3 linked regions of the Homo sapiens genome follow. The protein of the gene in region 2 interacts with the protein of the main gene of each other region in a pairwise test. Each region holds a gene or a part of one and is shown on either strand. Other genes may lie near its edges. The genes, in order: C11orf71, DKKL1 and FJX1.

Evidence for each region.
Region 1: the proteins of DKKL1 (region 2) and C11orf71 interact in a two-hybrid assay, tested with the Homo sapiens proteins (one large-scale study listed by BioGRID and IntAct).
Region 3: the proteins of DKKL1 (region 2) and FJX1 interact in a two-hybrid assay, tested with the Homo sapiens proteins (one large-scale study listed by BioGRID and IntAct).

What each region holds. Positions count from the first base shown.
Region 1 is NC_000011.10:114,397,885-114,401,906, reverse strand, and holds C11orf71 (uncharacterized protein C11orf71), read left to right. Parts: upstream 1-1,395; 5' UTR 1,396-1,575; coding exon 1,576-1,947; 3' UTR 1,948-3,375; downstream 3,376-4,022. Other genes in the region: RBM7 (RNA-binding protein 7), read right to left, coding at 47-209, 1,140-1,235.
Region 2 is NC_000019.10:49,370,233-49,373,879, forward strand, and holds part of DKKL1 (dickkopf-like protein 1 isoform 1 precursor), read left to right. Parts: exon of another isoform or gene 1-911; intron 912-3,647. UniProt on the Homo sapiens protein: Involved in fertilization by facilitating sperm penetration of the zona pellucida. May promote spermatocyte apoptosis, thereby limiting sperm production. In adults, may reduce testosterone synthesis in Leydig cells.
Region 3 is NC_000011.10:35,616,931-35,621,259, forward strand, and holds FJX1 (four-jointed box protein 1), read left to right. Parts: upstream 1-1,529; 5' UTR 1,530-1,706; coding exon 1,707-3,020; 3' UTR 3,021-3,935; downstream 3,936-4,329. UniProt on the Homo sapiens protein: Acts as an inhibitor of dendrite extension and branching.

The sequences.
Region 1 (4,022 bases), on a different chromosome or scaffold from region 2:
AAAAACAGCAGGAAACAATGCCCCCCGAACCTCATTGGGCAGTTACCTGATCTAAATTGAATTTTGATAGGCCTTCCATAAAGTTTGATTCCATTAAGTAGATTCATTGCATAAGGAACAGACACTTCATGTTTGAAATTCACAAACGCAAACTGCTTTGGTTTACCATCCTTATCTTTTGGAATTTTCACCTTTATTACTGGCCCAGCCTACAAACAAAAAGGTGTTTAGAATTTAAATAAAGCAACTAAGGGAAAATACTCAAATTTTACAAATAAGATATGACAAAGTTTAAAAACAACAGAAACGTAATCAGAAACTTCTTTTGAAAATGATGCACGGATTTCCATTTTGGCTACAGTAAACATCCTAGTTATGACTGAACATTAGATTTATTTGGGGAAGGGGGCCCATAAGGAACTGGAAACACAATCACTTTTGCAATTCACAGCACTGTATGGCTTAACATAGTGACCAATCGCCATTATTTTGCCACTCCATGAAAATGAACATTTATCAAGAACAAGAGAATGATTTTCTTTAACTAAAAACGGACTTTTGTATTGATTAATCAAACAATACCAGTTATTAGGGGATAGGGATGGGGGGAATAGGATACTCAGAATTTTTCACACTTTTTAATACAGCAACACTAAAATGCTGTTTTTCTACGGAGTACTTAACCATTTTATTTTACATATTTTAATAATGCTGCAATTTGATAAGCAAACTTTAGGGGAAAACAGACACAAATAAATTAAAATATTAAGTTCCCAGTCAGATAAACCAAAGACAAATTATCCTAAGGGGAAGATGACAACAGGAAGGATAAGAAAAAGCACTGCTCAACGAAGACCCTACACACACACTGTGTTCCCAAGGACCCCTGGATCTCTACCACGGGAAACCTGATCGAGGATCCCTCCACCACCTTTAGTCGTCACTTTCGGCCTAAACGAACCAAGATCTTCCAGGAAAGCGACACCCAGCGAGCGTTTCGCAACCCAGACCCGCCTTTCACCCCCAAACAGCCACCCGTCGGGTCCCCTGACGGCTACGAAAAGAAAACGGGGTGGCCGCTGGCCAGGCCCTAGGCGAGACGGAAAACGAAAGGCAAAGGGCCGAACCCAGCCGCTTACCTGGTGGAAAAGCTCGAAAAGGAGCTCCTCGGTCACTTTCGTTTCAAGGTTGCCCACAAAGAGAGTGCGATCCGCTTCCGCCGCCGCCGCCCCCATCTCAGCGTCGCCCCCTCCCTAACCTGGCCAAAAGGTCGTGGCCGACGCACCCACTGCGCATTCACGGAAGCCCCACGTCCTCACGCTCCCTGGCGTCACAAACGAAAACGCCCGTTGCGCTTGCTCTCAGCGGGCGACGACGTGCGCGGACGGTCTGCGCATGCTCGCCAGGATACCCCTCGTTAAAGGCAAGGCGGCTTCTGGCTCTTCCGCAGGCTCAGTTATGGGTTCCTGTGTGCTTAGTCATCGGGTCCGACACAGGCTGGACTGATCTGGGGAGCCGCGAAGGGCCTGCCTTCACAAAGGGACGTAACGCAAGTACTGCGGGCAGTGTTTGAATATGGCCCTGAACAATGTGTCCCTGTCCTCCGGTGATCAGAGGAGCAGGGTGGCCTACCGCTCTTCCCATGGCGACCTCAGACCGCGGGCGTCAGCGTTGGCGATGGTCTCCGGAGACGGCTTCCTCGTTTCCAGGCCTGAAGCGATTCATCTAGGACCTCGGCAGGCGGTGCGACCAAGCGTTCGGGCCGAGAGCCGTCGAGTGGATGGTGGCGGCCGGAGCCCAAGGGAACCAGATGGCCGGGGCCGGAGCCGCCAAGCCAGATTCTCACCTTACCCAATCCCTGCCGTTGAACCCGATCTCCTAAGAAGTGTGCTGCAACAGCGTTTGATTGCATTAGGAGGTGTTATCGCAGCTCGAATTTCAGTTTAAACGAACACCTTTCCTCTGGCCCTCACTTAGCTTGTGAACAGGCCTTTTTAAAATCCTTTCTTGGTGTAGCAGCAATCGTGTTGTTTTATTTTTAGATGGATGTATTTTCATTTAATACGTGGGAGTTATATGAATATGTCCTAGCACTAAGGGAAGTGTAACAGTTGATTGATTTAGGTGGTTTTATGCAGCCAGAACGATTGGATCAGGAAAGGTGTGGAAGGGATATTCTTAGGTCGTCACAAAGCTGAGCTGATGGGAGCACCCTCCCCAGAGGTCAACAATCCATTCGTTAACTCAGACACTTAACCTTTACCTTTACTTCTGTTGGCGAAAAAGAAGTGCTCCTTTTTATTACACTGATTTATCCTTCCATCTTTTCCTTGGCATTTACCATCTTCCATCTCCCCCTTCACTTTTTTCAGATATGTCTACAAACAGACTCCAATCTCAGTCGCACTAAAAATAAGAACAAAACCTAAACCTTACAGTTCTTTCAAATTATTAAATCAATTTATTATTCCTTTCTTTGGCAAAGGTTCCAAATTTTTACTTTATATTTGTAATTTTACTATTTGCATTCAGTCCCAGCGCATTAATCTGAATCTGCTGTCCTAAAATACACTGGTGAAAACATTACTTGTACAATCTCCTATCAGAAAACTGTTCATCTACTCACTGTAGTGCCCTCCTTGAAATGTGTGTTTGTTCATTCAACTAACAATATTTGGGGATCCCTGTAGTAAACACTGTATGAATTTTACACAGTCTGGCCATCAAGAAAGATCACGGAGTATATTCTAGATGGGGAGGCTACTAAGTGAATAGGAATCACCACGCTGGGCTGTTTATTAGGTACAGTAATAAACATAAGTACTGGTTGCAGTGACTTTTTTTTTTTTTTTTTCATCATAATACTGCACTATCCTGGTTCTTCTCTTACCTGGCTGATCACTCCTTATTTGCTGTTATTTTTGTTCTCTTAACCATACATTTCCCAATGTTTAAAGGGTGGTATTTTGAGAAAGTTAATGGGTTTTGTAAGTGCCAGCTCTTTATATAAGCAGGTAGACTAGCTTTTTCCCAGCAGACGCTTGTCTGTTTAGACTTCCTTAAAATAATTATCTTCAAATAAAGCAAAATCTCCATACACCACATAGTATTGAATTGTTATAACTACGTGTTAAGAAGAATGTTGAGTAAACAAGATAGCTTCCATAAGAGGGTGATTAATATAGTGAGAATTCTAGAAACCAGATCATAGGAAGAATGATTGAAAGAATAGTAATAGCTACCTTTTATTGAGTGCTATGTGCAAGTCAGTGTGCTAGGACTTCTATTGTTTATAGAGATATTTATTGAGAACTTACTCTGTACCTGCTACTGCCTGCGGTAAGCACTTAGAATAAAGTGGTGAACATGATAAAAGTATGTGTTCCTAAGGAACTTTATATGTTATTTGATTCTCACAGCAGCCCATAAGAGGGGTACTCTACTTTCATTTTGTTACTGAAAAACAGCGTGAAGGAGATAAACTTTCCAAGGTCATATAGCTAGTAAATGATAGAGCCCTGCAGCCTTTCAAATGAGGTTCCTCATCTGAATGCAAAAAAAATGACTTGAGTAACTATTTTCTCAATTTTCCCAAGGATAATATATAACTAATTTTTTTTCAGATAACTAAAAAGAAGTTAGTTTGTAATATACAATGGATGGCTTAATCTGGGCATTACAAAAACCCGTGGTTGAGAAAGGAATTCCAAACTATAAACAGAGTGTTAGACTGGGGAAGAAGAATAAAATTAAAGCTGAAGATAAAGAAGCCTTTCTTAAAACTTAGAGATGCCTAGTAGTGGAAAATACCACCTCAAAAGGTAATGAATTAGCTGCCAGAAAGTTCAGAGAGGCTGAATCTTGTGAAGGATTTTGTCAAAGGAATCCTCATAGTGCGAAATATGACTAGATGACTTCTTCATTTTTTCCCATTTAGTATATAATCCTATGCTTTAAAAAATAAACTCGGTTAAAGTTGAAATGGGGAGTTGGGGGATGAGGAGAGAAAAATTAGGTATGAC
Region 2 (3,647 bases):
GAAATTTCAGATTAGGACACCCCACTGGATTTGAAGGCCAAAGAACGTGCCAAGGAAAAAGTTCCCATGGAGGATACCCTGGTGGAAGACCTTGGAAACGAAAGCTCAGATAAGGATGCCTCACTGGACTTGAAGGTTGACAAACGCATGAAAGAAAAAGTTCCCACAGAGGATACCCTGGTGAAAGACCTTGCCAATGAAAGCTCAGATGAGGACGCTCTACTGGATTGAAGGCTGATGAATTCACCAAGGAAAAGTTCCCACGGAGGATACCCTGGTGGAAGACCTTGCCAACAAAAGCTCAGATGGGGATGTTTTGCTAAATTTAAAGGCTGACAAATGAGCCAAGGAAAAAGTTCCCATGGAGGATACCCTGGTGGAAGACCTCACCAACGAAAGCTCACATGAGGATGCTCCACTGGATCTGAATGCCGACAAATGTGCCAAGGAAAAAGTTCCCATAGATAATCCAGTGAAAGAATTTGCCAACAACATCAAGGAAAAGGAGGCCCCATGTAATGTGAAGGCACCCTAGGGAGTCCAGGTAAATGATTTCAAGGATGACCTGGCGGGGATGGTGATCAGTGAAAAGTCCCCAGAAGCAGCCCTATCTCTTCACAGGGCAAAATGAGATGCCAAGAAAAAAGATTGCTTCGCCATTCTTGTAGCAGAGCTTCCTGAAGAGATGTCCTCAGGGCAAGTGCTGGCCGTTGTCACCGTGAAAGGCATCAAGAAAAATGGTGGCTCTGAGGACAGCTTTTCTAAAACCAGTAATGACAAAGACTCTTCCTGTAGTGGAGACACTCAAGCTTCTGGAGCAGATATGGAAGAGTCCAATCATGCAGATGACCATCAGCATATGCCAACAAGTACTCTCCCAGCACCTGCAGAAAAAACAATAGAGACAAAGCCTGAAAAGGCAGAAGAAATGTAACCCAGTGAGTTCAAGGAGGATGAGGATGCTGAAGAGCCTGACCTGACCTGTTGTGACCTTTGTTTTTTATGCTAGAAGTCCCTACAGATTTTTTGAACACCTGGAAGGGCCGGGTCACAAGACCTCACCCTGGCCCAGCAACCATCTGGACCGTGAGAGTTTTGGGGATTTTGCTACTCTCTCTGGACTTTTACATTCTCTTAATTTTTTAAAAAATATTCTTTCTTTAACCTGTTTTAAGATGCAAGCTGTCATTGCGTCATCATAGTTACATTTTATTACTCAAATAATTTTTCAATTGTTTTACTAGTTTTTTTTGGATCTTTGTCCACTGGTTTTAGAGTTTTTGTAATTTTGATAAATGATCTTTTATGCTTTGTATCATTTTCTTAATGACTTACCTTAGTTTTTAACAAATCCATGGTACAGTAAGTTATATTAAGACATAGTATTTTTATGTTTTTTTAAATTATACTTTGGGTTCTGGGGTACATGTGCAGACATGCAGTTTTGTTGCATAGGTGCATGTACCATGGTGGTTTGCTGTACCCATCAGCCCGTCACCTGCATTGGGTGTTTCTCCTGATGCTATCCCTCCCCTGACCCCCCACCCCCCACCGACAGGTCCTGGTGTGTGATGTTTCCCTTCCTGTGTCCATGTGTTCTCATTGTTCAGCTCCCACTTGAGTGATAACATGCAGTATTTTGTTTTCTACTCTTGTGTTGGTTTGCTGAGAATGATGGTTTCCAGCTTCATCCATGTCCCTGCAAAGGACATTAACTCATCCTTTTCTGTGGCCGAATAGTATTCCATGGTGTATATGTGCCATGTTTTCTTTATCTAGTCTATCACTGATGGACAATTGGGTTGGTTCCAATTCTTTGCTATTGTGAATAGTGCCATAATAAACATGCATGTGCCTGTGTCTTTATGGTAAAAAAAAATAGTATAATAAATATCCCTATAGTCTCTTTTCCATAAACCAAAATTTCTTAAGGTTGGCATCATTGGCATGTGGGGCTGGATAATCTTTATTGTGGGAGCTGCCCTGTGCACTGTAGGATATTTGATAACATCCCTGGGCTCTATCCACTAGAGAGAAGTTGCCTCCTGCCAGGCACAGTGGCTCATACCCGTAGTCCCAGCACTTTGGGAGGCAGAGACGGGCGGATCATGAGGTCAGGAGTTCGAGACCAGCCTGGCTAACGTAGCGAAACCCCGTCTACTAAAAATACAAAATATGGGGCCAGGCACAGTGGCTCACACCTGTAATCCCAGCACTTTGGGAGACCGAGGCAGGCAGATCATGAGATCAGGATATCAAGACCATCCTGGCTAATGCGGTGAAATCCCGTCTCTAGTAAAAATACAAAAAAATTAGCCAGGCATGGTGGCAGGCGCCTGTAGTCCCAGCTACTCAGAAGGCTGAGGCAGGAGAATGGCGTGAACCCGGGAGGTGGAGCTTGCAGTGAGCCGAGATCGTGCCACTGCACTCCAGCCTGGGCGACAGAGCGAGACTCCGTCTCAAAAAAAAAAAAAAAATACAAAGTATGGCCAGGAGTGGTGGCTTACACCTATAATCCCAGCACTTTGGGAGGCCGAGGCGGGCAGATCACCTGAGGTCAGGAGTTCGAGACCACCCTGACCAACATGGAGAAACCCCGTCTCTACTAAAAATACAAAATTAGCCGGGCATGGTGGCACATGTCTGTAATCCCAGCTACTCAGGAGGCTGAAGCAGGAAAATCGTTTGAACCCAGAAGGTGGAGGTCGCGGTGAGCGAAGATAGCACCATTGCACTACAGCCTGGGCAACAAGAGCGAAACTCCATCTCAAAAAATAAATAAATAAATAGGCTGGGCATGGTGGCTCACGCCTGTAATCCCAGCACTTTGGGAGGCCAAGGCAGGTGGATCACCTGAGGTCAGGAGGTTGAGACCAACCTGGCCAACATGGTGAAACCCCGTCTCTACTAAAAATGCAAAAATTAGCTGGCATGGTGCCATGCCCCTGTAATCCCAGCTACTCTGGAGGCTGTGGTGGGAGAATCGCTTGAACCCAGGAGGCAGAGGCTGCAGTGAGCCGAGATTGTGCCACTGCACTCCAGCCTGGGCTACAGAGTGAGACTCCATCTCAAAAAAAAAAAAAAAAGAACACAGTCATGTTGGATTAGGGCCCAACCTAATGACCTCATCTTCACCAATTATATCTTCAATGACCCTAGTTCCAAATAAGGCCACATTCTGAGGTATTACAGGTTAGAATTTCAAAATATGAATTTGGGGAGGAAACAATATGGTTGTTTGTTCGTTTGTTTTTTAAGCCTGGGTCTTGCTCTGTTGCCCAGGCTAGAGTGCAATGGCACAATCTTGACTCACTGCAGCCTCTGCCTCCCAGGTTCAAGTGATTCTCCTGCCTTAGCCTCCCAAGTAGCTGGGATTACATGAGCGCGCCAGCACGCCCAGCTAATTTTCATATTTTTAGTAGAGACAGGATTTTGTCATGCTGTCCAGGATGGTCTCAAACTCCTGACCTCAAGTGATCTGCCCACCTCAGCCTCGCAAAGTGCTGGATTACACACATGAGCCACCGCGTCCAGCCAGGAGGAAACAATTTAACACATAACAATCTCCTGCGCGGCTTCTCAGACCTCATCTTACTAAAAGGCAGACTGATTCAGCAGGTCTGAGTGGGGTGGGACCTATTAATTTG
Region 3 (4,329 bases), on a different chromosome or scaffold from region 2:
CCCCATGTGCACCTGATGGGAAGATGAAAGGAGAGAAAAGATACACACCATGTAAGGAAACAGATTTCAAACTCTGGCCTTTGAGAGGTGGATTCCACCATGCCCCTGATCTTGTGTCTACCCTGGGAATCTCAGTGTGGATCTGGGACTCATTCTGATACAGAGAGGTAAGGGAGGGCCGACTGGCATCCAAGTTTTCCTGGTAAATGTAACCCAGAGGTGGCTGGAAGATGTGTTGGGGTGAAGAGGTTGTTCATTTTGTTTTCTTTGCTCCTTCACCACCTCCCTCCCCCACCACCACCACCATTTCTTTTTCCCTTAAATCGTAAAAGCAGTAAATCAAATGCAGTATGGGATTGAGGTTTTTTTCCTTTCCATTTGAAAAATCCTTTTAATTGAAAAATCACATTTGGGGAACAAAGTGGTCAAATGACAGTGAATTTCAAACTTGAGAATGCTGACTTGATTAAAAAAAAAATACTGATCTTTCTTAATGGAGGGAAAATCAAGTGCATGCGGCCAGGAGACCTGAGTTTGACTTTTAGCTTCGCCCCTTGCTAATTGTGCAATCCTGAGCAACACCCATCCCTTCTCTGTGCCTCAGTTTCCTCATGGACAAAACGGTATCATTTCTTTCGAAAAGTCGTCCCTGACTCCCCTCTCCCCAACACGAGGTTGGATGGCTATAATCTCTCTTAGCAACCTGAGAGTCCCACTGGAATGTAAATTTCAGCAGCACTGGGACCCGGATCTGTGGATTTTGCTTCTGGTAAGCAGAACCAGAACTGAGGGGCAGTCGCTGTGTTGAATGGATGCATGAATGAATGGGAGATGGCCTAGGTGTTCAAGGGGCACGTGCACAGCGAGGCTTCATTCCCTGGGAGTCCGTTGGGAAAGGCAGAGCGGCCAATACTGATTGGTGCTGATGTGCGAGCTCGGAAAAGGGAGTGTCGGTTCAAAGTTGTTGGCTACAGCGGGTTCCTCTTTCCGCTGGAATCACATCCTCTGTGGCTCGGAGACATTCCCAGAGATTTACATAAAGCAGCGTGAATCACCCAGACAGAAACTGAGAAAGCAAAGGGACCCTGCCTGATCCTAGCCTGGCGGAGCTCGGAAAGAGGTGGAAATCTGTCTGAAGTTTGCAGGAGACCCGCGCTGCCTAGGCAAAGGGACCCGGCGACCAAGACACCCCCGCGAGGGCCCAGGGCGCGTCCCTCCCGCCAGGCCCCAGACTCCGGCTCTGCGCCACCCCCTCCTACGCCCCGGCGCGGGCGCAGCCAGTCCGGCTTCCTCCAGGCCCCCAAGTCCCGGACCGAGTGTGGGGCCGCCTCTCCCTCTCGGAAGGAGCCATCGCCGCTTTAAGTGGAAGAGGAGAGGAAGGGGGCGGGGGAGCGGGGGGCGGGGAGCGGAGGCGGAGGAGGGGGAGGGGGATCCCCCTGGCTCCCACGTGGTCCGGGCGCCTGTGAATCGCGCCCACCGGAGGGTCTCACAGCGAAATACAAAAGCAGCTGGGAAGCGGCGGGGACTCGAGTTCCCAGCGCCGGGCGGAGCGCCGGACAGAGCCCCGCAGCGCCCCGCGGCCGCGATGGGGCCGAAGCGCCCGAAGCCCCGGAGCCCACAAACTGCCGGGCCCGCCTCGCCGCCGGGACCCGGGTGCCTGGGCTCGGCTTGAAGCGGCGGCGGCGCACCGGCACAGCCGCGGGAGCATGGGCAGGAGGATGCGGGGCGCCGCCGCCACCGCGGGGCTCTGGCTGCTGGCGCTGGGCTCGCTGCTGGCGCTGTGGGGAGGGCTCCTGCCGCCGCGGACCGAGCTGCCCGCCTCCCGGCCGCCCGAAGACCGACTCCCACGGCGCCCGGCCCGGAGCGGCGGCCCCGCGCCCGCGCCTCGCTTCCCTCTGCCCCCGCCCCTGGCGTGGGACGCCCGCGGCGGCTCCCTGAAAACTTTCCGGGCGCTGCTCACCCTGGCGGCCGGCGCGGACGGCCCGCCCCGGCAGTCCCGGAGCGAGCCCAGGTGGCACGTGTCAGCCAGGCAGCCCCGGCCGGAGGAGAGCGCCGCGGTGCACGGGGGCGTCTTCTGGAGCCGCGGCCTGGAGGAGCAGGTGCCCCCGGGCTTTTCGGAGGCCCAGGCGGCGGCGTGGCTGGAGGCGGCTCGCGGCGCCCGGATGGTGGCCCTGGAGCGCGGGGGTTGCGGGCGCAGCTCCAACCGACTGGCCCGTTTTGCCGACGGCACCCGCGCCTGCGTGCGCTACGGCATCAACCCGGAGCAGATTCAGGGCGAGGCCCTGTCTTACTATCTGGCGCGCCTGCTGGGCCTCCAGCGCCACGTGCCGCCGCTGGCACTGGCTCGGGTGGAGGCTCGGGGCGCGCAGTGGGCGCAGGTGCAGGAGGAGCTGCGCGCTGCGCACTGGACCGAGGGCAGCGTGGTGAGCCTGACACGCTGGCTGCCCAACCTCACGGACGTGGTGGTGCCCGCGCCCTGGCGCTCGGAGGACGGCCGTCTGCGCCCCCTCCGGGATGCCGGGGGTGAGCTGGCCAACCTCAGCCAGGCGGAGCTGGTGGACCTAGTACAATGGACCGACTTAATCCTTTTCGACTACCTGACGGCCAACTTCGACCGGCTCGTAAGCAACCTCTTCAGCCTGCAGTGGGACCCGCGCGTCATGCAGCGTGCCACCAGCAACCTGCACCGCGGTCCGGGCGGGGCGCTGGTCTTTCTGGACAATGAGGCGGGCTTGGTGCACGGCTACCGGGTAGCAGGCATGTGGGACAAGTATAACGAGCCGCTGTTGCAGTCAGTGTGCGTGTTCCGCGAGCGGACCGCGCGGCGCGTCCTGGAGCTGCACCGCGGACAGGACGCCGCGGCCCGGCTGCTGCGCCTCTACCGGCGCCACGAGCCTCGCTTCCCCGAGCTGGCCGCCCTTGCAGACCCCCACGCTCAGCTGCTACAGCGCCGCCTCGACTTCCTCGCCAAGCACATTTTGCACTGTAAGGCCAAGTACGGCCGCCGGTCTGGGACTTAGTGTCACCGGGAGGAAAAGAGAGAGATCTGGGGCTGGGGTATGGATGATGGGGGGAAGGGCGGTCGCCTCTGCCACTGTCAGGGACCAGCCGGCCAACGCCCACCCGCAAAGGTGTCTAAAAACTTCAGCTTTTCACCCACCTGCCCCTTTCTTTCAATCCCACGCTGTTTCCTTTCAAAGTTCTGGGAGGACGAACTCACCGAGGCGAGAAGTGTAACATTCTCTCCACCCAGCTTATAAAAGGATTCTTTACTGTGCCAGCACGGGGATTGGATCCGAAGAAACTGGCTACTGGGGTTTGGCCCCCGAGTGGCCGTCCCTGTGGGAGATGCACCCCATTCTTGGGCCCCCCCTCATTCCCTTTCCGAAAAAGGAAAACTTGCGTTTGAGCCGTTGAGCTAATTCTGCAATTTTCTACCAAACAGAGCGCTGGTGGCCCCGGAGCAGGGCTGTGACATTGGCTGGTGGAGCCCCCTTCCTGTGTTCTCCCTTTGTTCCAGCGCCGCGATGGTGAGATCACTGTTCCAAGCAGGGGGACGGCTCGCGATAGGACAAAGAGAGCAGGACCTCCAGACTCTGGGGAGCCCTGCAGACCTTGACAATTTGCCTGACTCATTCCTGACCTCTTGTCATTTTGGCCTGAAGGCTACAAATTCAGGGTCAGCTGTATGCACTAAGTCAAATAATGAATTTCTTCCTCCCTCTCGCAACCGACCAAAATTTTGACAACGATGATGTTCACCAGAAGGAAAAAAAAAAATCAGTTTTATGCACTTTATTTTGTTTTGATTTTCATTTTTTATTAAGAAAAAATTTTATTTTACAGAATTTACCTTCTCTGTATATATGTGCATAAAGTGTGGTGTAAATATACTAAACAAACTTATATTTCAATAAAAGGGAGTTTAAAATTTATAATTTAATTCCTGTGGTTTTAACTTGTTTGATGTTTCTGATGCCCCATCTGCTTTCAGAATAAGATTTAGGTTTTCTTTCTTGTGGATGTGTTTTTAAAACAAAGGATGCATATCCATTCCAGTTGTGACTACGGAACTTACAGAATTGAACAAAGATAAGAGCAGACTCCCTGTCCTCACTCAGATGAACCTTGGTGCTGGAAATTTGAGTTTAGCCTAAAATGTGGGGGAAGATGGGGAGAGAGATGGGAGGAAAGTGTTCTATTTCCTGGCAAATAAAACTTCGATGTGAAAGGATTTCACTGTAGTATATTCCTATATTAATCATTTGGCAAATATGATAGAATCAGATGTGGGGACTAAAATATGACAAACACCCCCTTTTTAAACTT